Linked DNA regions of Homo sapiens: region 2 is linked to region 1. A link means that fine-mapping ties the variant in region 1 to the expression of a gene that starts in the linked region. Tissue or cell type: caudate. Region 1 holds a variant in brackets; the other region holds the start of a gene. All regions are shown on one strand. Distances are from middle to middle. Region 1 overlaps SLC5A12 (solute carrier family 5 member 12). Region 2 holds the start of SLC5A12 (solute carrier family 5 member 12).

Region 1 (16,676 bases):
AGAAACATCAGATTATATTCTCTAGTGGTCCTAATCTCTGCTAGATTGTTCTGCCTCCTCTACAAGAAAAGTGATTCTTTGACTTTTCACTATTTATCAAGAAATATAAACCTTAAATGACAAGACCATTAAATGCACTTGCTAGTATTCATACTCAAACAAAAAAACTCAGAACTAGGGAGTCAGGGGACTCTGCTGGTTACTTAGGAAGAGAGATAGGAGTAATAATTTCTGTATAAAAGCTGTCAATAACTAAAAATGACCTAGTATTTGAAGTTTTCCTTAACTTCTGAAAGTCTTCTAATGAGAATTGAGGTTTCAGCAGCTTTTTAAGTAGTAAGAGAAAGAAACCCTAAGGAGAAAAATAATTATTGCTAGAAATCTAAATATAATGATCACCATGAAATTATCTGATGTCTTCATTTAAAGAACAAGTCACTCCTTAATAAACCTGCATTATGGGAGTTGAGGTGAAGGCAGTTTGAGCAGAGTGTTTCTGAAATATGTGGCCAAGATTTGGGATGGAAAGCCAGAATCTCTAAGGCATAGAACTCCTCATCTCATTATTCTTTCCATAGACAGCTTTGCCAAATTTCCCATTAACCTTTTTCTTCTTCATCCAGGGTGCACTAGGAGGTCTTCTTACTGGAATCACCTTGTCATTTTGGGTGGCCATTGGGGCCTTCATTTACCCTGCACCAGCCTCTAAGACATGGCCTTTGCCTCTGTCAACAGACCAATGTATCAAATCAAATGTGACAGCAACAGGGCCTCCAGTACTATCCAGCAGGTATGCTGACTTTATAGATGGTGCTAAGTCCCAGAGAGTGGGTCACCTGGTAAGAGGGAGGTGCACTCTTCAGAGATAAGTGTGATGAGACATATCTTGTTCTCTTATGAGACTCACTCAGGGAAGTACCCAGCACTGAAGAGTGCCACGCAGGGCTGCAGCTTTCTGCAGATGTCCATTCCTCTGTATTCAGACATACAAAAACCAATTTGGTGAAAGAGTTAATGCGAGATATGAGTACAAAAGAGAAAAAATAGTGGAGGGTTCAAAGACAGGTGACTGGGTATGAGGAACATGGTTTCCTCAAAGAATAAAACTCAGTAGAAGAAGTTTGTGAGCAATGAGGATAATGCTTATGGGCAAGCTGAGTTAGGAGCACCGCTGTGAACCTATGGCTTCTAAACCAAACAATATGAACACAGGGTTTAACAAAGGATTTCCCTTTGTACTTCTGGCTGGGGTAAGTGATCAAATATATCAAAATACATCAGATACTATGGTGTAGAGAGACGATTGTGGACTTTGAAATCTGAAATATTTGGGTTTGGATTTTGGTTTTATAATTTATTCCCTCTGTATCTTTGGACAAGTTAGTAAGTTGTAACTTCTTGAATTCTCAGAGCCCTTGATGGAAAAATGAGGAAATATATATATATATATGAATATATATACATATATATATGAATATATATACATATATATATGAATATATATACATATATATATGAATATATATACATATATATATATGAATATATATACATATATATAAAGTAGCACTACACGTGACTTTAATAAATGTTCACTCTCACATTCTAATTGTATGTAAGAGCAAGTCTAGAAAATATAGGATTTGTGTTATTTGTGTATCCTCAAAAGTACTTCATTTTTAGTAGCCCTTTTCTGATTATCATCAATATCTCCCCATACTGGCTCATTCCCTCTGAGTCCAGGCTTCTCAAACTGGCCAGATAATGTGGCAAATTGCATTCATGAAAGTCTCTCTCGGTCCGGCATATCTTCTCCTCTCCATTGTCCTTGTCAATCTTGAGGCTAGTCTTGTCTTTACAAAGTCCAGAAAAGTGAAATTATCTTATTTGTATTTTTTATTTCCTCCATTTTTCTATCTCTTTTCCTTTCTAATACAACCCATTCTATCCAAGCATCACTAGATTTATTTTTTCTGAAGCACCTTTCTGAACTCATTACTACCACATGGAGATGACTTAAATGATTCATGTGCTTATGGAATAAAACACAACCTTTTTATCCTGGAGCTAAATACCTGCCAAACTTAAAACTTTCCTGTGGTTTTAATGTTATTAACTATTGTTTTCCTTCTACTCTGAATTCTGTTTCTTCTCGTCTACCTATGCTTATCCCACTCTTTCCTACATTTGGGTCCTTAAGCTATTCCCTTTACATGAATATATTTTAGTGTTCATTTCCACTCTCCTAAAATCTGTTTATCTTTCAAGAGCCATACTAGTGTCTCCTATTCCTCCATAAAGTTCATTTTGACTCAGGTTCCAAATGGGCACTCCATTATTTTGCTTCCATTTGTCTTTGAGTTTCATTTTCTTTCCATAAATTTTATATCGAAGAATTTCAACCTATTCATGGTTCCCCATAAACCATGTTGATTCTTCCCTCCTGCCTATACTTACTGTATTCTCTTCTTAGAATGCTAATTCCTGGCCCTGACTACCCTCTTTGCTTGATTAACTACTAATTATTCTTTCAAAATGAGCTGAGGTATCATCTCACGCATTGGTCTGAATTTGATACTACTCTGAAGGCTGCCATAGTATTTTATACCTTTTCTACTGAGGCAAAACCAACCCATTTTATGATTGTCTATTAGCTCCTGTATGTAGACTTTGTGACTTTCTCATCTTTATATCACTAATGCTTGTCACAATTACTAGCACTAAATCTGGGCTTAATAAAAGTCTGAAGAATAAATAATACAAATGAAATTGTATTATTTGTATTAAGACACAATCCTCATTGTAATACTTATGATTCAGTATCAACATCGTTATATTTGTAATTCAGGAATGAATTGAATTGAGTGGAATACAAAGCACATCTTCTCTAAATATAATTTTTTAAATGACAAAAAGTTATGATTTAGGCTTTTGAGATGCCAGGCCCTAAAATGAATCCTGAGCAGTCCTCTACATCACTGTGGGTCTTTAGGATGCATGGAATTGGTGACATGTGCTGTTCTCCACAGACCTGGAATAGCTGATACCTGGTACTCGATCTCCTACCTTTACTACAGTGCAGTGGGCTGCTTAGGATGCATTGTTGCTGGAGTAATCATCAGCCTCATAACAGGTTGGTTATAATTCCTCCCTTTGGGACTAAAGAAGATATGGGCTCATGCATGCATTGGTGGACTGGCTGTCTGTCTTATTGCTTTGAATTCACGTTTCCCACAAAAACCCTTCTTCCCACAGAGATGTCTACTCTCTCAACGCTGACATACAAAGGCACCCTTCATTATTATATACCTGACTATTAATATATAAAACATATATTCACGGGAGGCTGAGGCAGGAGAATCGCTTGAACCCAGAAGGTGGAGGTTGCAGTGAGCTGAGATGGTGCCATTGCACTCCAGCTTGGGCAACAGAGCAAGGCTCCGTCTCAAAAAACCAAAAAAAACCCCAACCAAACAAAAAAACATATATTCAAACATTTCCCATATATTATTTAAAAAAAGATGCTTTGACACATGCCCCCCAGAGGCCTGAGTATGAAAAACCCTCTGTAATATAACAATCAGTAAATAAGGTTAAATATTCAGAGTGGTTCTTTTCCCTTCATCCCAGTAAGAGACAAGATTTTTGTCATCACCATCTTACTATCTCATGAAGTCAGCCTTTGCTAACTTACTAGAAAAGCAAAACACTGTTGTTTTTGCCTATGTTGTCCTTTGGAGGCTGCTTCTCTAGGGTCGTGGAGTTCTCTGCAGTGAGCAGCTTCACTGTAAGCCATTTTTAGCAAAGTGTCTACCATCCATACTTGCCCTTTTGATGTATTAATGTCCTTTTTGTTTCAAAGCCCATGAGGGGTTGGTAGTGGTGAGAGTGTGGGAGATAATGGGGTGGAATAAGTTCACTGTACTCTTGTCCCTCCACCTCCTTGGAGTATGTATTTTAGCTAAAAAATTTTAAGGTATTCTATTTTTCCATGACTATTATATACCAATGAACAATGGCCAACATTCTGACTCAACACAAAACCTGAATGGCAACATTTCTGGTGACTGTGTACTAGAGATGTTATATTGAAGCTCCAATGCCCTATTGTTCTGTGCATGATGTCACTAGCCATTCACTGAAATTTAAGAAGATCTTGGCTATGATAAAGAATAGACTATAAATCTTGTAACCCCAGTCTTTCACATAATAACAACTCTCTCAATGTCTTTATGTAAATGGTTTCAGGCAAAAGATTGTTTATTCATTTTGTTTAGATTTTGCCTTAGTACCCTGACATCTGTAACTCCTTCCTTGATGCTAGTGGGATATACCTAGACATTTCAGTTTAGTGATCGGTCACCACTAAGAAGACAACCAAGATTTCAGCTGCCTGAACATTTCCTTCTAAATCAGGAAATGTGTACACATGAAATCCAGTAGTTTGCCAGTCCATATTTTCCATGTGTGCACCAGAATTAGCATGCTCTTATGTTGATACAGCAGCACTTATATTAAATTTGATTGAAAATTCTTACACATTTTCAGCATGAATAACTCTTCCAGTATTAATCCCTTTGTTTTCTTTTTCTCCAAATAAGCCAGGTCTTAGTCAAATGCCCTTCAGGCCAAAAGCGAACACTCTAACAAAGTCTAATTATGCCTTCAAACATTTGGAAAAATTTTTGAACATGACCACCAGATGTTCTTGCCTCCTGGTCCCTGTCTTCCAAATGAGGCCTTAGGGCTAGCCTGATAACCTCAGGTCTGCTCACTAAGAGGCTTTAACAAATCTTCTGTAATACCCACTGAATCTTTTAAAAAGTCTTACAATGTTTAAATGTAGAATAGGGTCAGTAAGGAAGGACAGAGGCCTTTTGTGGGCCTGTTCTCCTTGTGTCATATTTTATCTTGGTCTTGTTTGGTCTTAATAGGTGATGTCTTCAATTATACTTCTTCCAGATAAAATACGGCACCTCGAAGATATGCTGTTTATGTTACTCATACATGTTGACACATAGAATCATGTCTGTGTTGATTAGCAACTCCAGGAAGTTTATATCATTAATCATTTTGTGCATCAGCTGCTGAAAGATCTTGGCCTAAGATACACTTTAAATTCTTAATTATTACTGATAAAATTCTGCTGGATGGCTGAAAGTTATTTTTTAATTTTTCCATTTTAGATATGTGAAATGAAAATATCATTTCCTAAATCAAGAACAAATACCATTGTTGGTGTATCAAGTGGCCAAAACATCCCATTATCAGGACAGTATATAGAGATTGATGCTACTCTGTTTTTCAGTGTACAGTAGTTTATATTTATCTGAATCTTACTATATTTTTCTCATTTACCATAAAGCTGCATGTCTCAGATATAAAATCTTTAGTTATCAATCTATTATTTTATATTTTAGATTATGTTTCCGTACTAAGGTTAAATCTGGCCTACTACCTGTTTTCTTTTTTTTTTTTTTTTTTTGTTTTCTAGAAACAGAGCTTGCCCATTTATTTGCTTTTAACTATGGTTGATTTCACTCTACAAAGGCAGAGTTGAGTAGTGGCAACAAAGATCCTCTGGTTAGCAATGCCTAAAATATTTACAATCTATCTCTTAACATAAAAAAGTAATCTTTGTATTAGATAATTAATCTCATCAGAGAAATTTACTGGACTAGTTTATAAATTGTCAGGAATTGTGCAGCTCTGTATAACGATGAGAGACAGATCAAAAATATTCTAGCTTTCAGTTTGCTGTGGTGAAATCTGATACCATTCTAATTTCTGATTCTTGTGTGTAATCTACCTTATTTCAGTCTCTCTCTCCTCTTTGTCACACACACACAGACAGAGGTACATACACACACACACAGATACATGCACACACACACACAGATAGATACACACACACTCATGCCATTCTTTCTGTTGCAAGTTTATAGACCATCTCTTTATTCCTAGGTTTCTGAAATTTTATGCCCTTTCCACTCCTAATCTGACTTTCCTAACTTCCAACTTAAGCCTATGTCTTATACTCAGGACTTCTGCTGAGAGTTTTGGGGCTTGTGCCCAGTAGAGGGACCATGTGGGGAATGGATTCTAGGTTGCATTCTGCTCATGGAGTCAGTACCTTGGCATAGAGTTGGTTCTGCTCAGAGGAAGGGGAACTTTCCTCAAAACCACCCCAGGTTACTATACATCTAGAGACATTTCCTCTATAAGCATGAACTTTCTTTTCCTTAGGATAAACCTACTTGTCTACAGGATATGATCTCATCCCCTTTGACCTTCTCTTTTCTCACCTAGTATGTCTACAGTCCTGTAGTCTCTTGACGAACTTGGTTTCAACCAATTTTCTCAGCAGTCCACTGATGCTCAATCCCCAAGGTCTTGCTCATGAAAGAGATGATAAATCCACGATTGAAGGCAAACACAGAGCTTCTGGTTTGAGAATTTGAGTTTCATTTTCATTTTTAACTTTCCTACCTGTGAGAATTATAGCCCTATACTTTGCTTTACCATCTGCTATCTCCCAAAGGGAATACTGTCTTTTTCTAGAAGAAAACAGAATCTAAATCCATATGAAGCAGAGTCCTGTCCTTCTTAGCAAATCTCAGGACCTGCTCTTAAGAGACAATAGATCTACATCATTTGTTGGAGTGTTTGATGATTTTGTGGTTCATTCAGAGACAAAACTCTTCTCTGTTTGAAACCCTGGAAATGGCTTTGTCCCAAATTAAATTATTCTGATTCAGAGATGCCCTTGGATAGAAGTTTGAGGTTTTGCAACTCCTCCTCAGCCACTCACACATACGCACACATTAAGGCAAATGGAGCGTTACAGAGTGTGAGATCACATATGTTTAACTAAATGTATACTTCATCATTTATTAGCTTCTAGAAAAGTTCACCATTTCCTCATCCATGAAATGAGAATAACAATACTTACCTATTTATAGGGATTAGTGATAATCTATGTAAAATGTGTTCAGTATGTAGAATACACTGACTAATTGATAAATATTATTATCAACAGTAGTAGAATTCTATGTGGCCAAATGTCTTTTGACATAGTGATGTAAATGCCAGGGAATAGATTGCTTAAGCCTCAATTTAGATTTTTAAAAATCCACATTTTGGGCCAGGCATAGTGGCTAACATCTATAATCACAGCACTTTGGGAGGCTGAGGTGGGCAGATCACCTGAGGTCAGGAGTTTGAGACCAGCTTGGCCAACATGGTGAAATCCCATCTCTACAAAAAGAATGCAAAAAATTAGCCGGGCATGGTAGTTCGTGCCTGTAGTCCCAGCTACTCCAGAGGCTGAGGCAGGAGAATCACTTGAACCCGGGAGACGGAGGTTGCATTGAGCCGAGATCATGCCACTGCATTCCAGCCTGGGCAATAGCATGAGA[C/G]TCTGTCTCATACAAAAAACAAACAAATCTACATTTTTTTATTTTTTTTGTCTCTAGAAAGCAGTTTGAGAAAAAGTTTGTGGATGGTCACAGTATCTGGCACTTAAAAGAAATTTGATCAACAGTGTAACCACTACTCCACTCCTCCCTCTAGGGATCTTTACACTACACTGACTATGGGACTAATAACTATCCTTGAATGATATTGGGTATTAGTGAATAGTCTTTATGACTTAAAATTTGCATAAGTTCTGGGAGGAGCAAAATCATTGGCCTTTACATCTTGGTTTGAATATCAATTTGACTCTTGTTCCACAGCAGGATTTGAAGAAATAGGACATTGAACAGGTATGTTTCAAGGAAGGGAAAAGGAGGGTGTGAGGCATGAGGAGGTGTGAGGAATGCTTAAAGTACCTGGGAGGAACATGAGGGTATTGCTTGTTCAGGATGTTAGGGTGAAAGAAAAGAAGGAACAATAAAAATACTCTTTCTAATTTTACAAATACTGACTTAGATGATCTCAAATATTAATATATCTGGTTTGGATAAAAAGTCAAGAGCTTTTTTAAAGGAAGAAATTGCATAATTACTGCTATCCCCTCTGTTGGCCAAAGAAGGTTACTAGTAGCATTTTCTATAATAGATATTTAAAAATAAATAGGTTGTCTCTGTTTAACTCTACAGTCATGAGTCTACCTGACCTGACAATTTGTTGATGTTTAAAAACGAACTCCCACCCCTTTCAGCAGTTAACCAATTTCTGTTTATTAACCACTCAATCTTGTTTTCACTCTTATTCTAAAAAGCAACCTACTTTTCAAGTTGACAATGTTTAAATCTGTAAAGGAAGACATGGAGGCCTGCAACCATCTAATCTATTTGTTCTTTTGTTAATAGGTCGCCAAAGAGGTGAGGATATTCAACCACTGTTAATTAGACCAGTTTGTAATTTATTTTGCTTTTGGTCTAAGAAGTACAAAACACTATGCTGGTGTGGAGTTCAGCATGACAGTGGGACAGAGCAGGTGAGCTGATGTTTGAGCTTCTAAAAATGTGTATGGACTCAAAGGGATTCCTGGTTTTGCCCATTTAAACCGGCTGCAAAGATGCACTGGAAAGGGAAAGCAGTGAGTGTGAGAACTTGAAGGAATTTGAGTTTCAGCTTCAGAGTTATCTCAGCTAATCAGCTTTTAAGCACATAAATATGTTGATAGGTAAAAGTGCCTTGTAGCTGAATTACTGGCATTGCAGGTGGTCAGTTTTCAAACTGTTTTAACCCCTGTGAAGGTGAATTCTAGGAAGACATAAAAGTGAATAATAGAAAAGGAACAAATTGAAGACACATTCTCCTATAATAGTTCAAAGCATGGACTTTAGCGTCAGACAGTCCTGGGATTAATCCTGGTTCCATGTCCTACATTCTTTGGGTAAATTATTTAACTCCTCAACTCCAGCTTTTCTGATCTAAAAACTGGATGAGTAAGGGGGGTATTATACAGAGCAACATGGACACAAGCATTTCCAGTTCTATGGGATATAAACGTAAAGCAAGGTCATGGTGGGAATGTACAGGCAAAGACGCAGCAAGATGCACCTAACTCTCTAACTCCCTAGCTCTCTTTATTCTGGGAAAAAGAAGTGTGTTTAGATCAGGCAGTACTAGAGACACTGTCCAAGTTCTATTAAGGTTTCATCAGCCAAAGACCACCAGAAAGAGCCTGTAGTTAGACAAAATTGGACTTACTGACTTGATGCAGCAAGGTGGGGTACTTCAGAGGAATCGGGGAATGCCACCCTCAACAAGAGGGAGGAAGAACATGTCTTTTGTAAGGTTTGGGTTCCCACTGAAGGATTCTTAAAGGGGTCTATGGGAAGCAGAAAATGACCACAAAGCTATCTGGGGCAGCATTGGTAAGAGTGCAATGGTCACTCAAAGGGTTGTTACAGCATTTGATGACTGCCAGACCTTGGCAGCAGCTGACCTTATCAGTGTCTGTCTTCCCAGCTTGATTAAGGGCAGGAGTATTTTTTGTTGTTGTTGTGTTTTTCTTTTTAGTTTAAACTTATATTCACTTTTAGTCCCAGACATTTTATTCTTTTACGATTTTAGGAGAGGGAAGCCTAACCCATATCATGGCAAATATTTCTGAGTTGTCCATTGCTCTTATCTCCAGAAAACAGCAGAATAGCATGTATATCACCTAAAGCTGAGTTTATTACTTTTGGCAGGAGGCAAGAGCACCACGTTTACAGAGAGGCTCAGAATACAGAAGTTAGGTGCAGACATGTATAGAATTCTGAGCTTAAGTGACTTAAGGTAGATCTTTCAATTCAGGGTTCTTATTGGAACTGGGCAAAACTGTGTTGTGAGAATTTAAAATTGGAAAACATAGCCAGGTGAGGGTCCTAAAGTCAGTTTTGATAATTGAACAGTGGCTTGATAAGCAAGGAGTTTGCTTCATTGAACAATCTATACTTTTGAGAAAAGGGCTGTTTACCCAGATGAGCAATTTATTTTGCTGAGAAGGCAGCTGGTTAAGCAGCCTATTGTTTGTATAAATGAATTTTGAGGAAGTTCTAGAAGCAACGGATCAAGTTATTTGTTGGTTTGCAGACTCAGGAAGATAGAATTTCCTGGAATAAATAATAAACTTAATTAATGCAGGCAGCCAGCTTCTGTTCTCAAGGATAAGTTGAAAGGGAGGGGACACTCCTTGTGTCACTACTGGGCTCCTTTGCCAAAAAATAATGTTGAGCAGCATCCAGGGGAGTTTGTGCATAGGTGTCCCTGTTTTTATCAGCAGACTCTCCTATTCCCAGGTAGGAAGGGGGCCATCCCCATATGAGATACAGGTATGTTTCTCCTTATAAGGTAATACTACTACCTCACAGGATTGCTGGGTTAAATGAGAGGTATATAAATTTCTTCATGCAACACGAGACATACTGTAAATGCTCAATAAATTGTTCTTTTTGCTGTTATTATCATTAGAAATAGTACCTTACGTGGATTATCAAAGTTATCAATTAGAAAATGTCTTAGGTCAGAGTTGTTTATGCTTCTTTTGTACATATATATAATTTTTTGAAGCCAAGGCCTAAACAAGATTCTCTCAGGTTAATTTGGAGTACATCAAGGATATCTTGCTAATATGTGTCTTTGTATTTCCCTCAGGAAAACCTTGAGAATGGCAGTGCCCGGAAACAGGGGGCTGAATCTGTCTTACAGAACGGACTCAGAAGAGAAAGCCTGGTACATGTTCCAGGCTATGATCCTAAGGACAAAAGCTACAACAATATGGCATTTGAGACTACCCATTTCTAAGGCAATACCTGTATGAATGCACACACACACGTGCAATACACACACACACACACAAACTCCACATACTTCTTGCCTACTTGTTAGTAGATATGTATAGTTGCCATTGCTAGAAGACAGGGATGTCTGGTGCCTATTTCTACTTATTTATAACTACATGCAAAATGACTGTCTCTCGGGATATTCTTTGAAAGACTCCAACTTTCACAGAGAAAAACCAACCTGCTCCAAATGCCCTTGACTACTTCCTTCTTGAATAAATTAGGGCTGGATTTCATTACCATTCAAGAAAGCGAAGTCTTTTTGCTTGGTGTCATATTAAACTTCAGGTTTTTCGTTTTAGTAGTTTTTTAACCATCAAAATATCTTGGAGTTTAGAGGCAGAACGGGAAACAGAAATATGCATATTTAACACTTTCCTGCCACGAGGGATAAAATAGAGGAATGACATCCACCCCTGACCTCATACCTGACATACATGTAGATATATTTTATGCCACCCATCTCCCATCCTGTAGCTACAATTGGCATACAACTACTATTAACCTCCCTTCACCACCACTGTCAGGTCCTCTTCCAGTCATTCCAGTCATTAGCTGTCCTGACCAAACATTAAAAAAAAAATTCAGCTAAATACAGAAGAAGATGGTATGTCTGGCTAGTGGGAGTGATTATAACTAAAAACTTTGCTCCTTTTGTGCTGTCCATGCAGTATGTCTTCTTCCTTTCTATCACTTTACAATGAAAAATTGCCTCAGAGCTCAATAAGAAGTCTAGAGCCTTTTTCCAGGGCTAAGGAAAGAGAAAAGGAATGTCCTATAGAAGGTTGTTAGGATAGAATTTGGTAAAAGAACGTTGCAAATATTGTAACAGACCATAGGAGATTTCATCAGCAATAGGATTCTTCTTTGGAGAAAATACATTGTCCATAAGACTTGTACTCTGCTCATTCAACTCATGTGAGCAAGCTCAACTCACTCCACCTGGGTTAGGTAACAGAAGTGGAGAACTTCATAGTTCGTGTCTAGAAAATAATGTTTAAAGTTCTGGAGAATGAGGGTATTGCAGATTAAAAGGCGAGTTGACAAATGAAGGAGCAGTGAAAGATTTTTGGAAGAAGTGAAGAAGTGAAATTCTGAAAAGGTAAAAGAAAGAACCAGTATGTCACAGGGGCCAAGTCAGAGGACAGATAATAAGAAACAAAGTTGTATCTGAGAGTCATATATTAGGACAGGTGTCAGATATTTATTTTGGTGGCCAGATAAAAGCAAAAGGCCTAGAAACAGTGTGTTAGCAAAGTAAGAAGAAATGGTCCAAATAGGCAAGGATAAGGAAATCCAAAGGTTGTCTTTAAATATTTCTCAAAAGAGAAAGCCTTGAAAGAAGCATACAATAGAGAAAAAATAAATTACCAGTATTTATTATTAGAAAAGATAGAAAGACAGACAAATCAGTGGAGGAATTAAAACAGAGAAACTGGAGTTTATAAAACAGAGCCCAATCCTTGCCTTCTCTCCCTCCACTCAAATAGAAAAGGAGAATGGAGAAAGAGAAAGAAGGTATTAGGCTACAGTTTATAAGAGAGATGAGAAAAAAATACATTTGGGAATAGAGGGAAAGGGTCAAAAGGGGTCACATTTGGAGAAATATCTGAAAATGAGAAGGAGCAGAATTTTTGGAAACATTTTTTAAAGTCTGGCAACGCTAATTAAGCTGTTGATCTAAGGATTTGCAAATTGAGAGGTGCAATTATTTTCCAAATGATTTGTGACACTCTTATTAATTAGAATATATATTTTGTGAATATTGAAATCTGAGCCAAAACTAGTTAGCTTTATTAATATCTTAGGGAAAGAAGAGAGAAAGAAAGAGGGAGGGAGAGAGAGAAAGAAAGAAAGAAAGAAAGAAAGAAAGAAAAGAAGAAAGAAAGAAAGAAAAAGACAGGAAGAGGAAGAGAGAGACAGAAAGAATAAAAAAACAGCAATTCTGAGGATGAGAATAAATTAATGGTAGGTATTACATATGCATATACATATATATATCTGTACACATATATATGTAAATATGATTTGGAATACATCAGGATTGTGAACTTCCACTTGGGATAGCATAAAAGCAAAATATACCATACAATTTTTCATTTTACTCACAAATTTTACTCACAAATTCTCCTAAAGACATTTCACTAGGTCAGTACATTTCCGAGAAAGTTTTAAAAACGTTTCTTCTTTTATAGTCCCTAATTATCTTACCTGGAGTGTTATCAAAATGTCATACAACTGGAAAATGCAATTATTATTATAAAAATATCTCTGCCTTCTCTTGTGTAATGAAATTTATGGCATTAGGAGATGACATTTCAAGAGATTTTAGAGGTCAATGTAGAGACTCCCCCCATTCTTCTTAATTGAACAAACATGCATAAATCTAGGGTTTCAGGTAGAGAGCAGATGGGAATCTACAGGAAACTGTCTTCCATAGTGTATGAAAACCGTGTTTGTTGTGTGGTGAAGCAAAAGGAAACTATGAAGCGCACAGTCAATAGATTCAGCTAGTGAGTCCCAGCACTCCTTTCAGGCCCTCACTAGGATTAGCAGCCCAGAGTCATGCCAAGGCCACTGGTGCAGTACAAAGACAGTTCAGTGACAAGTTCCATCCATACCATGGAAGAGGGTTAAACTTGTGGCTGTTTTTGCCACAGCATGACCAGAGACATTCTCAATAAATGGCACTAGGAATGATGAGTTTTAGAGGGGCCTAAAATGTTCCAAACTTGATACTCACCACTGTACCTTTAAAGCACAACCACAGATATTGGTAAAAATGGAACAGAATTACCTCAATACCTCTTTAACTCATTCTGTATGAATTCATTTTGATGACAGACATTTTTTGTCACCATTTGGAATAAGAACTACAACAGCTTATGATTGAGGTGAGGAACTGCAGTCAAATGGCTTAGGTTCAAACACGAGTTCTGACACAAATCTAGGTAATTTTGGGCAATATTTTAAAATCTTAGTTTATTCACCAATTAATAGGAGTAAAAATTACCCCTACTTAATAGAATTATTATGAAGATTTATATAAGTAAATCATATAAAGTGCTTAGCACAGTGTGACTGGCCCACATGGAACATTTAATACTTGGTCTGCAGTATATGAAGAAAATGGTGTACATGTTAACTTAAATGGTTTCATTATTTCTCTTCAGGATTTTTAAGATGTGGGATCAGAATATATGTTACTATTTTGAGAATTAGAAATAATAAGAAAAACAGAATGTATACATTAAAAGTCATGCCTAAATTTCCAAAGAGTAGTTTTTTTAATGCCAGAGTTTAAATAAAATATTATTTTCCAGAGAGTAACTTTTCTAAAGGTCCTAAATTCTGAAAAGAGAGAAAACTACTGTTATAAACAAGTTTATTACTAAAAGATGCAATTCATTACTATGATTTATTATTATTTTGTACATGTAAACCTTGATAAATAAACAGCATCTCAACCCAAGTTTATTACTCATTGCACAGTTCAAAGCAACTATGACTCTCAAAATAGCAACAGAAGGTGGGGAGGGTCTTTTCCCTTTGTTTATATAGTATTTGCTAAAAATGAACTTTACTATTTTGTGGCTTTATAGGGTTACACCATTTCATTCTAAAGAGAAACAAAAAGTAAACCATTGGCCATGTGGCTTTCAAACAGTATTTCAAAGAGAATATTACTGAAATATTTTTGTGCTGTTACAGTCTTAATCAAACATTATTACAAAGATCAGATACGGAAAAAATAGAGGAGTCTCCCCTTAATTGTTCCCTTTGAAATAAATTGTTTTAAATTATTACAGAAGTTATAGCTGTATGTACATGCACATTTGTATATTTACAAGTCTCATGTACTTAATCTCAATATTGCAAATTAGCTAGGTTTACTATAGAGTTAACTGCTTTTATCTAGCATTTATAATCTTGTAGTATAACCTATTTTCAAATAACTAAAATTTAATTGATGTCATCAATGGTACACATGAAAATGATACAAATTTATAAACTAATAAAATGTAACTCGTCATTGATAGTAAATTACTAATGGGTAGATTTTATTGGTAATTCTTGGAAACAGATAATATCATTGTTTCCTCTCCCACCCCAATCTCCTGAGTAAATCAATGTAGATTTGCAAATACTCATGTGAATAACAAACATGCACAAGCCCATTTTTCCAATATTATACTTTGGTGTTTCAAATATTAGCCATCTTCAGAAGACAAAGAGTTAAGCTCATAAGTATGTAACTTCTTAATCACAACATGACCCTTTCTTGAAGTGTCAGGCTGTCATCATAAATTAGAAAAATAATCTTACCCTGTGGAGCAAGATGTTCATTGATAATGATATTTCAGTACATCGATAGGACATTTAATGTGATATTTTTGTATTTTCAAAATCTTTTGCAGCTTTTTAATTTCAGAATCCTAGAATACATCTAAATCTAATGTTGTTTATACAACTAGTTAAGATTAGGAAAAATGCCTATAAACAAGTATAGGTATATAATTTATATATAATTATTTAAAAATTTTTTAAATTAAGTTCCAATGTAAGTGCATTGGAATTATCAATGTGAATATTTTCTACAGGGTTAGGGATGGAATGGAAGATAGTCACCTATTCTAAAATCTTTTGTTAAAACCTTATAGATTAAGGCAGGTCTACCAGGTGACCAACTAACCATATGCCAAAATAAGGTTTTTCATATCATATAACATGACTTCCTTTATGATGTTTTGGATAATGCCTGTAATATTTAGTTCACCCATGGGTTATGACACATACACACACAGAAATAAACATCAAGATGGTTTGTAACTTAATAAAGTGGGTTACTATAAATCAAGAAAAGCAATGAATAATGGTGATATCTTTTGTGGACCTTATCCTCAGGAATTTCCAGAAATGATTCACCTGTGTCCTAAGTTGCAAAAGCAAGTGTGTGCACAGATGTTCAGAACACCTCATCCCTATTACAGGATCTGCTTTTGACACATTTAAAAGGCTAAGAGTAGTTTCGTGTAATTCTTTACTTAATGTCTTAATTTAACTGCCATATAAAAAAAAAGTGAGCAACCTTCAAATCACTTATTTGCAGTATAGTATAATATAAGCAGGCTGAATCTGTGGATAACATTATTGACTGATTTGGAATACACTTCATAAAGGTTTATACACCTTTGTGCTAACCACTTTTAAGAATGTTAATAGGTCACCTTCTTAAAAATTGATTCAGTCTATCTCAACAGAGCAAAGCTTCCTTAAATTGGCTTTAGAATTTAAGAATTTGGAAGGAATATTTAATGATAGCAATACACAGTGTATTTTTTTATGATTTTCAGGATAACTGCAGTGAGTAAAAGGAGTAATAAAACCAATATTTATAATCATCTGGATAAATATATGGTTGCAACATAATTTCTCCTGTTGAGAATAAAAATGGTTGGAGAAATCCACTCTTGTCTCTTCTGGCCATCCTCCAATTCCTTTTTCAATTATAGAATTCCAGTAGCTCTTTCCTACTTGAAAAATACAATATAGAGGCCAATGGACATACATATTAGGAAGATAAAATTGTATATCCTTAAAATTGTATATCTTTTTAAGTGTATTTTCATCTTCAACACTGAAAATAGGCTGTTTATTCTTTGGTTAGAGTTGTCACCAAAATCAAAGCTTATTAGATTTAGCTTCATAAATCATAACATAGATAAGAAAAAAAAACCTTCATTTCTTCTGAGTGTTAACAGATGAATTACACTGTGGTTTGTTTTTCAGCCAGAAAGAAGGCAGGGTGTGTGCATAGCAGATACTGAAGTAGGATCTGTAAAGTAGACATTTTTGCATGGGTAGAAAACACTCTAAATTGCCTTTATCATCTTC
Region 2 (16,676 bases), 49 kb before region 1:
GCAGCTCCACACTCCTACTAGAGTGTAGATATCTTGGGCATATACATCACGTTCCATTTACCTTTGCACACTTCCTCAGCATAAGCTTTTAATCTTTTACATAGCTTCCACTCAACAAATGCTTGTTCTAGTAAATCAGCATCAATATTAATATGGCCATAGTATAAAAAAAAGAAATCAACTGTTACTAGTAATATGTATGGATAAACTATTGTGTGGTAGACACTATGCTGAGCACTGATTTATGTTATCTTGGTACTCATAACTACTGTGTAAGGTAACATATTTTATAAAAGATAAAGCTCAGAGACACTAAGTAATCAGCCTAAATTTTATAGTTAGTAATAGAGCAGAAATGAAATTTACTTACATTTGATGTCCAAGCCCAAAATTCTATTATTCTTCCTGCCTTGCCCTAACTACATATGCCAAGTATCCTTACAGAATGCATTTACAGTTTATAATACATCATAGTATGGAAGCCTCAAAACATCCCCTCTAGGTAAATAATATCATCTTTATTTTAAGGTAAGGATTATGATGCTCAAAGGGTTTGTTTTTTTGCTTGTTTGTTTTGCTCGAGGTCAAAGCATACTTTTGCTTAAGTTTGCAGACTAGTAGTAGAACTGGACTCAAACTCAGTTTCTTTCACTTCAAATTCCACATTCTTTTGACCTGATATTAAAAAAAATACTCAAAGTGAGGAAAGAGACCAATCAGTGATATCCTTGGCCTCCTAATATTAGTTATGCCCTCCTCACCCTATCTCAACCCTCCTTTCTCAGGAAAGGATAGCTTTCTGAGGAAAGCTCAAAATACACAGCTTTTTAATTTACACTGATGATGACTTCTTAAAAAAAAAAACAGTGCATGTATTTGGCTCACAATATATTTTCTTCAGATTGTTATCAAAAGTAATTATGATTAAAAATCTCATCGTATTTCTCTCCTGATAAATATTTTTTTCTAATAAACCATGCTTTTCTCATTAGAAAAACCACAGCTATCCTAAACATCTCATAGACCTCAAGTGAAGTCTAATAATTTGAAAATATACTTAGCAGAGGCAAGAAGTGGGATTCTGAATTAGGAATGTAGTAGATAAACATAATCTCACCCATATAGGCAGTCCTACAAATAGTTATATTTAAAAACAAGTAGAAAATAGCTTCTCCAACCTGTGTTTGTCTCATGGAGGTACTGGTATTGTACACTTTCCCATTAATCTTTCTTTCTAATCCTCTAGAATTTTAAAATATACACAACGAGAACATTTCCAAATGTGCTTTCTTTACAGATTCTCCAAGTTCTGGTTTGTGATTTTCCATAACACTGTTGCTCCATAGGTGGACTGCAATAATGCTGACTAGGGAAAGCTTAAAACATTTGCAAAGTGGGCCATACTCTTGTTTCCACAGCATAAAAATAACTTGAAGTTAAACTTAGAAGATACAATGGCTGCAAATACCTACCAAGCTTGTCCAACTCACCTTATTTTGTTGTTATTGTTCTGTTTTGTTTTGTTTTAGGCTTTTAGCATGCTGAAGCCATGGTTTTTAGTTTCTGTCTCTAGTGATAAGTGGAAAAGAAGGATGAGGAAGGGGCTTTACTGACCTAATCAGAAACAGAAGCTAAGAACCCATGACTGTATTCTCTCTTTTAGACACCCCTGCATCACAAAACAAAGATGAAAAAAGATTTTTTTTCACACATTTGTAAGAACATTTGTAAGAATATTTCCACCCTAGGGTGCAAGGAGATCATCTGAAAAGATAGAAAGAAATGATGTAACAACACACAAAACAAGGGACTACATCAGTGCAATGAAATAGAGAGGATTTCCATAATCTAGACATTATACAGAATTTCTAGATATAGAATAGAGCAAATATCAAGGGAACTCCAAATCAGAAACTTGGCTTTTGTCCTCCTGGGTCAGGAAGTATTATAGGTGATAATATGGTAGCTTCTGTTTTACTTTCCTAGACTCTGTTCTTTCCAGAATAGCATTGGAAGTTGCAAATGTTGAAATGTGATAGACGCAATAACAATAGCATTTTTGAAATTCCTATGATATGCTTGCTTGTATGACGTAGTTGACACATATCTTTAATTCTCACAACAACCCCGTTAAAAGGGTCCCATTTCCATTTTAAAGATGAGTAGGCTAATTACCAAAGAAATGAAGTAACTTGTTCAAGGTGATAAAGTTGGCAAATGGCTAAGCAAAACTTTGAGCCTGGCTTTATCTGATTCATATGCCTTCAGTCTTCATTCTTAATAAGAGCTTCCACTTAATGAGCACCTAAGTACATATCAGTCAGTTGACATGTATCATTTCATTTAAGTTCATAAAATGTATCTGAAAACCATAAGCAGGGCCATCAAGAGCAACCTTCAATTTAAAAAAGAGCTATGCATAAAATAAAATAAATCCAAGCCACCCAGAAAGGGAGCTAAAAACTTTACATAGGATTTGTATAAGTATGCCTATAGTCAGAAAGGTAGGCTGGAAAGTTGTGCTAAATTATTCTGGTACCTTTCCACCTACCATGCTTTGTCTATGGATTAGGTATAATCCTGAGTTCCACGATGAAGAAACTTCAGCTCAAAGAGTTAAAGCAACTTTCCCCAAAGTCGGTAAATGGCTGAGCTGAAACTTGAATTCAGACTTGTCTGATTTTAATATGAGGAAAAGCATTTCACATTAATTGAAGTAATTTCTAAATAGGCACCTGAAAAGCTGAATTCTAATGGGAACTCCATTTATGAGTAATTTTCCATGCATCATGACCCCAAAACAAAACCTTCCAGGGCCTGGCAACTTAGTGAAGAAATCAAGGCTTTTCAGAATTTTCAGATATATGAACACACACAAACATCACTAAAATTCTGACCACTTGAAGAAGATGAATGACCTGAGGCTGGACCTTCATTATTATCAGCTTGATCACTTATAAAGAAGGATAGCAATGTCTTTGATTTGCCACTAAACACTTGAGAACGTAATTACTCGTATCATGGTAGTATCAAAAGAAAGTCTTGCAAAAATGTGTTGAACAGTAGTAACTATAGCGCATAGTTTTTTATCAGCGACTCAATTGGGTGATAATGTGCACCATATAAATGGGCTACATTTATTTATGTATTCCCAGTGATGACAAATATCCACTGGTTTTCAGTTTGGAAAATATGCAAAAGTCATTTATTCAGAGTGATACCTAGTGATGGGCCAAGGTGGCATAAAGAACACTGGAATTGCCAAGAAATGGAAGACTGAAGAGTTCCACTGGTAACTGATAGAATTGCCTCTGAGCTTGTGTGAAGTGTATTTCCAAAGAATTTGAGTAATAAAAATCACTCAATATTAAATCTTGTTTGAATTTAATTGAAGTTCCATTTGTTTATAAAGTATTTGAGAATTTCTTCCTTTTTTGAGGCCTATTCAAACGTCCTGTTTAAGTCCCTACAAGCCTGAACTAAATAAGACATCTTTCCCTTCATGCTTATTTAGCAAAATTGAGCCGATAGTAGATCATGCTGGTTTTCCCCTTTGCCATTCTACAATGGAGTGGATGATTGAGATCCATGAGACAATTAGCTAAGGACCTTGAACCTCACGCTCAGTTGCCCTCCCAGCTGAATATTCTGCTTAAATGTTCTACTTGTTTACTGTGGAATGGTGCTGGCATTAGTCTGTTTTAATATTAAATAATGTTCTCTGCTGACCTTTCTAAGTGGACTCTGAAATTTGCCTCCTAAAAGTTTGAGTCAACATCTCTTTTCACATTTGTTAAGTGTCTGTAGAATATGTGAATAAATGATTAGCCACAGTCACATTTAGTTACAATGAATTACAGGAATCGGATAGGATGGAATATAAATTCAGTTTTTATTTTCATGGAAACATGTTTGTGAATAGATAAATATTTCAATCTAAATAAAAGCTTGAAAAACTTAGGTTTTTTTTTCAGTAAAAGAGGAATTAAACATAAATTGTAAACATGGAAGAGACTCCTAGAATTCACGTAATTTATTTTAATTTATTGAGTGTCTACTATGGGATAGGAACTTCTAGATGCTAAGAGTACATCGGAGAGTAAAATAGACAAAGTCCTTTAGGGGCTTACATTCCAGTAGAGGGATGCTAACATTTAAAATATATAGTATATTAGTAAAGGATACATTTCTTGGAGAAAATTTACAGCTGTGAAGGGAGATTTTGAGTGTTAGGGTTTGCAATTTAAATAGGGTGGTCAAGGAAGGTGACATTTGAGCAGACTTGAAAAGGTAATTTAATTACTTACGTTGATTTAATTATCTTGCTATTAATCTGATATATTCTCATTTTTACAAATGCGGCCACTAAGAATCAGAGAAATTAAGTGATATGTCCAAAATCACAAGATACCTTAGTAAGAGACTGTAAAAAGAGACTTGGTCTTTTGTTGGGGCTAAAGAATGTTTTCCACTTAACACAAATAGCCTTGGAGGGCAAACATTTTTCTAATAAGGGTATTTGAATGAAAGTGGAGTGGCAAATCCTCAACTCAAATTCTTCAACCTTCCAGCATTCTCAGATTACCTTTCCCTTTGAGAGATAGAGAGGGAGAAGAAGGAAGGAAGGAAGGAAGGAAGGAAGGAAGGAAGGAAGGAAGGAAGGAAGGAAGGAAGGAAGGAAGAAGGAAGGAAGGAGAGAAAAGAGGAAGAGAAAAAAGAAAAATAAAGAAAAGAAAGCTCAACCTTCTGACTTTGGTAGAATCGAATACCAAGTGGTCTTTTCCTCTTCAACCTCAAGACTGTAAAGATCCCAGGAGATCTTTCTCCAATTTCTGTTTCTGCTGTATTCTCTACGTCCTTTGTGAGTTTTACCTCCTCTAACAGTTATCCATCTCTACCACCATTTTGAGCCTAAAGTGGAACACAAACTTCTTTCCCTTTAATTTAATGATAAAATACAATACAATGTCAATGATGTAGCAAGTTTTCCCTAAACACTGGGAGTAAAGAAGGAATTTATCCCCCAGCACAGCACAACAAAAAATATTTAATATGAGTTATTCCCATTATTAAAATCTCATCAGCTCTTCCTTACAATGGGATATTTTTTGAGAAACGTCCGTGCCACCAGCCAGATTTTTGTGCCACTTCTTTGTCTTCACTCCTATGACAAGTCTCCAATATCATTCCCATGGACTAAAAAGAAAAAAAAAATTAAAGGTCTGTTTATTCGCAAGCAGAGTTCTTTTATCTTCCCCACCTGCTCATCAGATCAACTCTTTCTATATTCATAAAGATATCAGCCAATCAAGAAGCCGCTGTTGTAGGCCATATCTTTTATAGCTTACAGGAAGAGGAGAACTTCTGGATTTGCAGTCTTTTGTCTTTTATGATAAAATTATTGGACATGGTTTTTTCCCTATCAATCTCTGTAAGCAGAAGTAAGCATTATATTGAATTATCCTCTTCAGGATAGGAATTACTCAATTCCTCCTGGAAGGAGGCAATGGCCACAGTTGCTTTGCAGTTTGTTTTTTTAACCCATAATTTCTGTTAAAGTATAGTTTGGCATCACCAATTTGCCTCCCAGGAATTTGTTTGATAGGCATGCTCATTGAGAGAAAGCTCTATGGGGAGGACTACTTTCACTATCTCAATTAAGCAGCTTATTCACATTGTGAGGAATTCTTTGAGCCATCCTTAATATTCATTGGACTGAAATATGTAAAAATTATTATAATAATTTTTCTGAAACATAGTTTTAATCTTGCCACTTCCTAGTTTAAAATAAAAACAGGGCCGGGTGCGGTGGCTCACGCCTGTAATCCCAGCACTTTGGGAGGCCAAGGCGGGCGGATCACGAGGTCAGGAGATCGAGACCATCCTGGCTAACATGGTGAAACCCCGTCTATACTAAAAATACAAAAAATTAGCTGGGTGTGGTGGCAGGCGCCTGTAGTCCCAGCTGCTCGGGAGGCTGAGGTCGGAGAATGCTGTGAACCCGGGGGCGGAGCTGGCAGTGAGCTGAGATCGAGCCACTGCACGCTAGCCTGGCCGACAGAGTGAGACTCTGTCTCAAAAAAATAAAAAAAAATGAAATAAAAAATAAAAATAGAGCAAAATAATAGCCATTTTATTCTTGTACACCACTCCTACTCCCATTGGCTTTGAGAACAGATGAAGGAAGACACCAATTTAGTGAAAGTCTAGTCTCAAATGACCAAGGCTTGTTCATGTGCATTTTCTTCTCTTTGATCCCAGGCCAAAATAACCATGGTGTGCAGAGTTCACTCTTAGCAACATTGCAACAATGGTGTTTTTTGTTTTGTTTTGTTTTGTTTTGTTTTGTTTTGTTTTGTTTTTAATGCCCCATTTCTTCCAGTTCTTTACCTTTTTCTCTTTTGGTAGCATTTGATATCATCAAACTCTTTCTTTCCCATTACAACTTGTTGCATGCAAATTGCTGAACTATTTTACCTTGCGGAGACTACTAATGTTAGCAATTACAAATTTAACTTGTTAAGCATGTGAGTAATTGAGTAGCAGGACCTTGTTAAGGCCATGTATGAGTAACAGGTGATGGTGTTTATATTCTGACAGGGTCTCAAGCCTTACACTAAATGAGTCAAATACAAATGGCAGTATTCTGTGCACATGAGAGAGGGTAGAGGCGCTACAGGGATTTCTTCAGGTCGAAGAAGCATATTTTCCCTCCTTCTCGCTATATTAACATTTCTGATATAGAAATGTGCCTTCTAATTAATGAGGTCATTGAATGTACTGGGGTTTTTTTTTTTTCACCTGAAAAGTTATGAATTGCTGCTGTGCTTTACAATCTGCATGAACTTTGCATGGAGTGAGTCTTTATGGAATTAAGAAGAGCGTTTGAGGACAACGAATGCTACCAAAGGGAGAAAAGGGTAAATATGTAGAAAATAACTGAAAATTAAATTACTGAATTGATGCTGTGCCTTATAATCAACAAAATGTTGAAAGCAAGGAATACTTTCCTAAGAGGCATAAAGGTTTCTTCATATCCCAGGTATTAACCAATCTGCTCCCTACCACTTCAAAATTCAAGACTAATTGGAGTCATGCAGATAATACTGTTACTACACAAAGTTTAATTAAAACCATCAGTACTCATTAACTCTTTTGTTATAGGTTTCTAGTATGTACCTTTAGAAAGTTATTGATGATAATGTTTTGAACCATTCTTAACCTGACTTATACAAGGGGATTACATGTTTTATAGATTGAATATTAACCATTAGGTAGTGTAAATATTAAACTATAAAGGAGTCAAGTTTCTGAAAGCTAAAAAAGTTCTGATTTTCTGCTGAGATCACAACAAAAACCTCATATATAATTGGAATACTTCATGATACAAATAATTAAAAGCCCAGGTTAAGGTAAATATATTAAAGACCAAGATTTGCAGTAACATTTATCATATCAAATCTCCAAATCTAGTGGAGGAATTTAAACAGAGGACACAGACAGCTCTTGGGAGAGTCTTCATATTTTTATTGGTAACTAAAAGCATACTTTAGCTATCTAATTAAACCTTTCTTTGGTCTAATTCAAATTCATGAAGCAAAGATTTATTCAGTTATCCAGATGTGAAAAGCAAAATTAGAGCGTTTTTTGTTTTATTGTTTGGCTGGAAATGTTTCTGTCTTTGGGCATTATGGATAATTTTAGTTTTCTCCTTTCTAAAAATTATTTTTTTTATTTTCTACAATGGCTATAATGTATTGGGTATATGGACTAGAGCTTTGCTTCTGTCTTCAAGGAAATGTCATTTGAACAGCTGACAGACTCCTGTAGCCGGTTACATAGAGATTCCCTAAAATAGGCAAGATGATGGCTGAGTACAAAATGAGTACTAGGGAGGCTACGTTCTACAGGAGTTGACGTGGAGAGGCAGAAAAGCTTCACAGAGTAGAGAAAACTCATACTAGATCTTGTAGAATACACAAGCTTTGTAGAGGTGGGGATGGAGAAGGCCACTGAAGAAGGAGGAGAAGCATGAACAAAATTAGAAATTGCACTAGAGGTACTTTGGAACAATTGACAGAGTCTAAAGAGAGCAGAAACAGGAATTTATAACTGGATTGTTACCTTCCTTCTCTAATTTGTCCTGGTCCTAATTCTAACTTAGCCTGTGGGTACAGTGATAGTAACCTGGTGAAAATAAGAGAAAGACAAGATAAAGTTGAAGGCTATAAATAATTTATTAATTAATGGCAAATTGATTTTTCTAGGTCCTAGAATAAAGAAAGAAAAGCTATGATGTTCCAGAGTGCTCTGCTGTAAGCACAGATAATAGCCAATGGGGTACATATTATTACCTTTCATTTTACAGATCAAGACAAAGAGAGTCAGGAAGTTTAAGACTTAAGTCTTTAAAGACCTTGTAAGGTCTTATTATCCCTGTGTTCCAGGTGAAGTTCAGAAATGTTAAATGATTTATGAAATGTTTCATGGCTTTCTCGTGGTTGAGCCAGGACTCGAGCAAAGGTCTCTGAATTCCTAGTCCTTTGCTTCTTTCTCTCCACATCCACTGCCTCAGACAATTGCAGGCACACAGCCTTCACTCTCCCTTCTTCAAGAGGAAGACACTGCTGAGGATTGTGTTTGCATTTTACAGATTCCATCTCACGAATTAAAAATGCTGAGGTGGTAAATTGTTATCAATTCTATGTTTCCCAGAAATGTTTAACCTTAAGTTAAAAAAAATCTAAGAGATAAAACAGCATGTTATCTGGCCAGTCCATTCCACCCCCAGTGGTTATTAATTTCAGAACACATCTGAATTCCTTCTCTGTGGCATATGCTTTAGGAGAGGAGCAGACAGCTCTTAGCTAGGGTCAGATTTCAAATTCTCATCTCTTGGTGCCAATACCACCACCAGATTCTTCTTTGAAGTCAACTTTTGAGATCTTCACTAAGTACACGTTGGTGTCTGAAGATTCACACGAGTGCCTCTGGTAATCATTTTCTTCAGGGAATCACAGTCTCTCCTCTCAGCAAAGCATCCACTGTACTGAACTTTGCTTTTGGAAACATCTTCTTCCTGAGACCTCGTTGAAAGAAACTCTCTGGTGTCATACTTTCCAATATGGAGGTGAAGAACTTTGCAGTTTGGGATTATGTTGTATTTGCAGCCCTCTTTTTCATTTCCTCTGGAATTGGGGTGTTCTTTGCCATTAAGGAGAGAAAAAAGGCAACTTCCCGAGAGTTCCTGGTTGGGGGAAGGCAAATGAGCTTTGGCCCTGTCGGCTTGTCTCTGACAGCCAGCTTCATGTCAGCTGTCACGGTCCTGGGGACCCCTTCTGAAGTCTACCGCTTTGGGGCATCCTTCCTAGTCTTCTTCATTGCTTACCTATTTGTCATCCTCTTAACATCAGAGCTCTTTCTCCCTGTGTTCTACAGATCTGGTATCACCAGCACTTATGAGGTAAGATGATTTCTCCATTCTTCTCTAATTTTTTTTTCTCATCCTCTTGATGATAGCACCTGGTAGTTGAAGAACACTCACTGATTTTCAGGATAATTACACATTATGAGAAAGACATTAAAATGTTTTTGTAAAAAGCCTAAGCTTTGGAGACAGACATATCTATTTTCCCATCTGTAGAAGGAAAATAATGATGACAATCCCACAGGGCTATTTTAATGATCAAATGAGAACCTCTATGTGAGCACTTAATGTATGGCCTCATTTGTAGGAGGTTTGCAATAAAGAGGGCTGATGTTATTTTTTATTATTGTGAACGTCATCATTCTGAAAAGCAAACAGAACATTTCTCATGAGTACGGCAATTTTCCAGCTAAGAAAACTGAGATACAGATAAATGACTTAGTTAAGATTTTTGAATAGTAAAGTGACCTGAGAACCTAATTTTTTCTGTATCTCTACTTAGTGGCCTTTCCGTCAGAGAGTAGAGGGCATTTTAATACAAATTATAATAAGACTAATTTTTAATGAGGAAATGGAAACATTTTTGAAAAGTACAAAACATTTTAACGAAAGGAATTGCTAAATAATACAAATATGGGAATTATTTAATGTGAGGGAAATGAGGCAGTGGTGTTTTGGCTTTACAATGATTCTCAATGAAGACATCATGTTCAAAATTGAATTTGCATGCTCTATATAGAAATGTGATCAAACATAAGTTTCTATTAATAAGGTATTTATTTTCATTATCCAATATCATTCCTAAAGTCACTGCAGGAGACTGAAAAGAGACCTATTTTTTTTTAAATATGTAAGCTATATGAGTATAAAACATTATTCTAGCCTTCAAAAGTCACTCAGGCAAATGAACACTTTTTAGGAAGTCTTAAAAAGTGTTATTGATTCCATAGTTTTATGTAATGTAATTTTTATGACTATTCACTCAGTAAATACTCATTAAGCATCTACTCTTAAGATACTTAAAAAGGCACTCTTCTTTTTTTCCATGTATTTATTTACTTATTTATTTATTTATTTATTTATTTATGAGATGGGGCTTTTGCTATGTTTCCCAGGCCGTTCTCAAACTCCTGGGCTCAAGTGATTCTCCTGAATCAACCTCCCAAGTAGCTGGGACTACAGAAGTTTGCCACCACACCCAGCTTGTTCTAGGCATTCTCGTAGCCCTAGGCATAAAGCATTGCACCAAGTTCCTGCTGTCATGGAGCTTACTTCATAGCAGAGAAGGGCAGTCAATAAACATATACTGTGTAAGAAAATCATAATACAAATATATATGGTATTTAACTATGTGCTAAGTACTTCTCTAAGTTCCTTATGTGTGTTAAGTCTTTTGGCCTTAAAACAATCTTTTTTAGACAGGTACTGTCACCTCCTTTTAACAGACTAGAAAACTGAGGCATATAGAATTAAGTAACTTGCTAAGTGACATAAAGCTAGCAAGTAACAGTTTTTCAAACCAGGCAGTCTAACTTTAGATATCATATGCTAAATAACTATGCTGTCCTGTCCTACAAAAACAAATGGAGAAAAAGTAAAGTAAATAGGATGAGATAGAGAGGAGGAATGCTGGTATGAGTAGAGAATGTCCATATTCATAGAGGGTGATCATATGAAACTTCAAGTAAAATAAGACGTCTAAATGGAGACTGGAAGAAAGCAAATAATTGCACCAGACAAGGGAAGTGCATCTCAGGCTGAAGTAGTCACAGATGCAAAGGCCCTAGAAAAGGAGTGTGACTGGCATGTTGAAGGACAGCAAAGAAATCAGTGTGCTTGGAGAGGAGAGAGCAAAGGGGACAATGGTAAAAGATAAGATCAAAGAGATGGGAGTGCCCAGTTATATACAGCAGGGGTCTCAGTGGAGCTAGTGCCACACAGAGGGAGCACTTGGGATATTTGTAGGATATTTGGTTGTCACAATGATTAGGAGTCACTACTGATGTTTAGGGAGTTGAGGGCAGAGACATCAGATGTCTTTCAGTGTGTAAAGGCACATATACAATGAGTAATTTCACTCTGCACTGCATGATATTTTAATGCCGTAATGCTCAAAAACTACTGCACATATTAGTATTACCTTAGTGCACAGTAACTTTACAATAAAAAGTTATACACACACTATAAATTAGCACATTTTCCAGAAATTAAATGAAATAAAAACACTGTCTTAAAATTATTGAACAATTTACTTACTTTGAACAATCTGTCTATTCCATATGTGCTGCTCATTACATGCTTAGCCATAACTGGTTTTAGTAAAATGGCCTAGTTACTGCAAAAACAACTAAACCAATTGCAATTATGTAACTGAGGAGATTTGATTCTCTTTTTAAATTAATAAATTAGTACAAGTATTGAAAATATAAGGACTTCATTGAATTTAATTTACTAAATTGTTTTTAAAATATTTACTATTTTTGCCTCTACATATTTTCAACTTTTTAGTGACCTAATAGTAAGTAATCCAGAGTGTGTAAAGTAGATATAAGGTTATTTTGGGATTACCTCTTGCTTTATAAAAATTGGCATTATGGCATGCAAGTTAAAAGTATGGACTCTAGGCCAGGCGTGGTGGCTCACGTCTGTAATCCCAGCATTTTGGGAGGCTGAGTTGGGTGGATCACCTGAGGTCAGGAGTTCGAGACCAGCCTGGCCAACATGGAGAAACTCCATCTCTACTAAACAACACACACACACACACACACACACACACACACACACACACACAAAATTAGCCAGGCATGGTGGCGCACATGTAATCCCAGCTACTCGAGAGGCTGAGGCACGAGAATCACTTGAACCTGGGAGGTTGCAGTGAACTGCCGAGATCCACTGCACTCCAACCTGGGCAACAGAGTGAGACTCTGTCTTTAAAAAAATAAAATAAAAAAGACTATGGACTCTAAAGTCTGTTGACTTGGCTTTCAGTGTCAGCTCTGCCACTTGCTAGCTGCATGACCTTGGCGTAAATTACTTAACTTTTATATACCTGGTTTTCACATGTGTAAAATAGTGGTAATAAAAACATCTATCTCAAAGGATGTCTGTGAGGAGTAAATGATTTATTGTATACAAATACTTTTAACAGAGCCTGGCAAATAGTAAATACTATGTAAGAGTGTTGCATTATTATGATCATTGTTGTTGCTATCTTCAAATTTATACCACTTAATCTGTCTATAGTATCTGGAGTTTCTGTTTCTTTCTTCAGCCTCCATTCTCTAGTAGTTATTGAAAGGTATGCTTTCTAGGGTCTTTTTAAATACTAAAGACTGAAAGAGGTGGAGTCTCTTTATCCACCCTGTGAACTTTGGCCAGTTTTGTGACTTGCTTTGACCAGCAGAATGTAGCCAAAGTGATGTTCTGTGAGCTTGGAGCCTAGGCCTTCTGAGCCTTGTAGCTTCTGCCTTTGTCCTCTTGGAATGCTGCCCTGATACTGCTATGTAAGGAAGGTGGCATAGCTGATCTAGCTTCAGGAGCAGCAGTGGACACATAGAGAACAGAGACACCTAGCCAACAGCCAATACAAGTTACCAGACCTGTGAGTGAGGCCATGTCAGACCTCTCTCCATTGATCTTCCAAGTTACTGAAGCTACATGAAAGTCCTGATGAAACCAGAGAGATCACCCAGCCTGACCTCAGAGTTATGAGAAATAATAAATTTTTGGTTTTTGAGCCAATGAGTTTGGAGGCGAGTGTTATATAGCAATAGCCAACTGATTTAAATGCCTTGATATGCAGTGGGATTTCAAGACTAAGATATGCCATCTGTGCTACTTTATCACTACCCTGTCACAAGTCAATGTATAGGGAATTCTTCTCACCCTCAAGTGATAATTTAGGCTTAGCTAGTTTGCAATATCATATATTTTCATTATCTCAATTGTACAGTTTGTTATTAGTCTCATAATATTATCTTCACTTTAAAGTTATTTCCTTCCTTCTCTTATCATACACTCATAAATCTAGTTTGCTATTATTTACCTAATTTAATATTGGCTTATAGGCCAATGTCTACCTGTTCTCTCATATTTCTTGGACTTCTTGGCTTCTGAACTACTTACTTCTCTTCAATTTCAAATTTTCTTTATGATAATGCCCGGGCTACTATTTCACTGTGTTTTCTTGTACAGTGGTTTCTGAGCATTTATACATTACATACTTTTTTTAGGTAAATGCTTTCCTTTTAGTTCTCCTTCAAATAACAGTGGTGGTATTGTTAGTAATTATATTTATATTTTGAGAAATTCAATGTTTATCTATAAGATATTATTGAATACTATTTCAGCAGAGTGAACGGTGCTATATAATATTTGTTGTAAAAGAGATATTTAGGGTCTGAACCAACGTTATGGGGCCTTTTAGGTCATCATAGGGATTAGCTTTTACTCTAGAAATGATGGGTCATTACAGTGTTTGGGAAGGGAAGTGACATGATGGGATTTGTATGTTAAGAGGATTACTCTAGCTAGATATTAAGAATAATTTTAGGGCTTTTACTGCTGAAGCGGGGAGGTAATTGGGAGTTTCCTTACATAATCTGAGCAAGAGATGATAGTAATAGGGTTGTAAGAGAGGATGAATGCAAGTAAATATGTTTTGAAAGTGGGGGGCAAGCACCCAGATTTCTTTTATGAATTGGATGTGGGGAGGGAGAGAGAGGAGTAAAGGCTGGCTCTATGTTATTTGGGCTCGAACCAACCTGAAAAGTAGAGTTGGTATTTCCTGAGATGGAAAAGAGTATGGCTGGATCAAGTTTGGGGTTCTGAAAATAATCCATCATAATGTTGGTAAATGTCACCTCAGGTATTTTTACAAGCAGGCATGAAGCATGCAACTTCTCTGTTGTATTTTTACTTTTGACAATAGGAATAGCTTATATATACACCAAAGGTGACCACTGAATGAATGAGTGAATACATTGAAAGGAAAAGTGGATAAATTCTTTCAGATATAGAATTATGCAGTTGCAGTAGTCTTTCTTCTTTCACAGATGAGAATCCTGAAGCACAGATCACAGAGTGAGATGCCAGCAAATCTCAAACTGGAATTCAAGGAGGCTGATTTCTGATCAGGTCTTTATTCATATAGCTTTTCCCTAGTACTGTCTTTGTAATTTTACTGGGTTGAGTGGAACTTAACTGAAATGCGAAAACCATTGATTTTTTTCAAGATCCCTATAGCAATAGCCTCGTGGCTTTACTGGTTTTCAGGATTCGTTGCCCCTTATGTTTTCCAGACTTCCTTGTGCCACCCAGTACCAAAGCTAATGCTACATATTTTTGGTTTTTGTTACACCTCCCCACTTCTAGTGCCAATCTTTGTATTCATGATTATCTATTGCTATGTAGCATACTACTCCAAAATAAATGTCTCAAAATAACAATTTTAGTTTTTCACAATTCTGCAGATTAACAATTTTGCCTGGCTCAGATGGGCCCCATAAAATTGTGCTGGTCTCACTTGGGACCATCTATGTGACTTCCATAAGGTAGCTAGTTGGCTAGCAGCTTGCTGGCCTAGGGGAATGCAAATGAGACAGCTTGTCCTTGTTACCTTTAGTCTCATCCTCCTGTAGGCTAACCTGAGTTCTTCATGTGATAGAAAAGAGTTCCTCTCAGAAAGAGAACACACCTCATTACAGAAGCATTTTCAAAATTTGTACTTGCAATATATTTACTAGAAATGTCTCTGTCTTAAGTTGCATTCTACTAGAAGCAGATCCTGAAACAAGGATTTGAATGCAAGTTGATTTGGGGGAAGTGATTCTAGTAAGCAGTGATAGACAAGTGGCAACGTGAAACAGAAGAAAAAGATGCCAATTAAAAATGTAATTTTGAGCAGGTTACCACTGTGAACAACTGGGGTTCAATCCAACTGGGGATCTCTAAGAGACAATATAAAGTGCGTCTCAGGGTTGTCCTCACTGAAAGGCAAAAAGCCAGGGTATTTTGTTCCAACCCCATTTAGTAATTGGCTGAGTGCCAATGATAACACCCTCAAGCCTTCTGATCTGCCCTATGGCCCTGTGCAAAGGCTCAGAACACTCTCAAGCAGATAATCTCAGGCACATTTAGATGCCATCAACATGTACTGGAACAGGGAATGCCAATAAACTATGGGTGTTGCACCCTCAGAGACCACAGCAGTCATTAAATCCTACTATAGCCCTAGCTCTGTACCTGGCATTATCATACTTCCCACCATCTGATCCATACAACATCCACTTTCAGAAGAGAAAATCATGGCTTAGTGGCAGAAAATAGTCTTCCCAAGGGCACAAGATGTGAACCCAAGGTGTCTTCACCACAGACATTTCAGTGTTTTCTACCTTATGATATTTGTGACTGCTGACTCCTCACTGACTTCCCTTCCTCTGTAATATTTTCCTTATGTCTGATGCCCTCATTCACATATTCACCGGACTATACATTCTGGCTCACAGAATATATCATCTGAAGAGAGGACCTGAAAATAAGGTGGTTTTCTACCTCAGGTTTGGGAGAATCTGGCAGGATAAATTGAGAATGTGAGTTAGTATAAAATGGAGTCACAGTTCTGCCAAGAGATGTCCTTTGCTTCAAAGAAGGGCCAATTGTAAGCCATGAAACATTTATCTAATGTTTCTAGGGAAAGGATAAATTGATTGTCAATCCTTGATTTAATCAAAATGATTTTTTTAATTCAGAAAAGAAAGAACTACTATCAAGTAGAAACTACTAGCAAGAAATTTAATCCTCAAGCCAATTGATACTTTAAAATTTTATGGTGTTTATTCAATACATGTTTATTATATACTGAAAGACATATATTAATGTCTTCTAGAATACTTACTGAGAAAAACTTTTCCTAATCTCCAAAACAGTAAATGAGATTCTACTATTTAGGAAGTTCACAGCTACTTTTAGCTCTTGTAGTACATATCACAATTGCAACTTTACTTCCATTAGTATAAATATTTGTTAATGGTCACTTCGTCTAATCTGTAAGATCCTCTATGGTATGGACTATATCATATTTGCTTATCATTTTGTGTCAGAATGCAATATGTAAAGCAGGTAACAAACATTTGTTGAATGAATGAATGTGTAAATGATAAAGATAAAAATGAATAAAATAGAACAGTACTTGTATATTAGGAATAGTAAATATGGTAGGCTGAAAACAGCATACCTTCCCCAGTAT

The links. PIP is the estimated chance that this variant, and not a neighbour inherited with it, causes the effect. A credible set is the group of variants that fine-mapping cannot tell apart.
Region 2: SLC5A12 starts here. The variant in region 1 is the best candidate, but not a certain one, in a credible set for the expression of SLC5A12 in caudate (GTEx, PIP 0.51).

The regions. Positions count from the first base shown.
Region 1 is chr11:26,665,169-26,681,844 of GRCh38, reverse strand. SLC5A12 (solute carrier family 5 member 12) reads left to right here. Exons shown (of 15, transcript NM_178498.4): 12 at 624-790; 13 at 3,030-3,133; 14 at 8,316-8,443; 15 at 10,594-14,825. The coding sequence ends at 10,743. Among named protein-coding and RNA genes, the nearest start is that of SLC5A12, 49 kb to the left of the region's middle. The variant C/G (reference allele first, on the strand shown) is at 7,419.
Region 2 is chr11:26,714,163-26,730,838 of GRCh38, reverse strand. It overlaps SLC5A12 (solute carrier family 5 member 12), which reads left to right and starts at 8,779. Exons shown (of 15, transcript NM_178498.4): 1 at 8,779-9,463. The coding sequence starts at 9,125.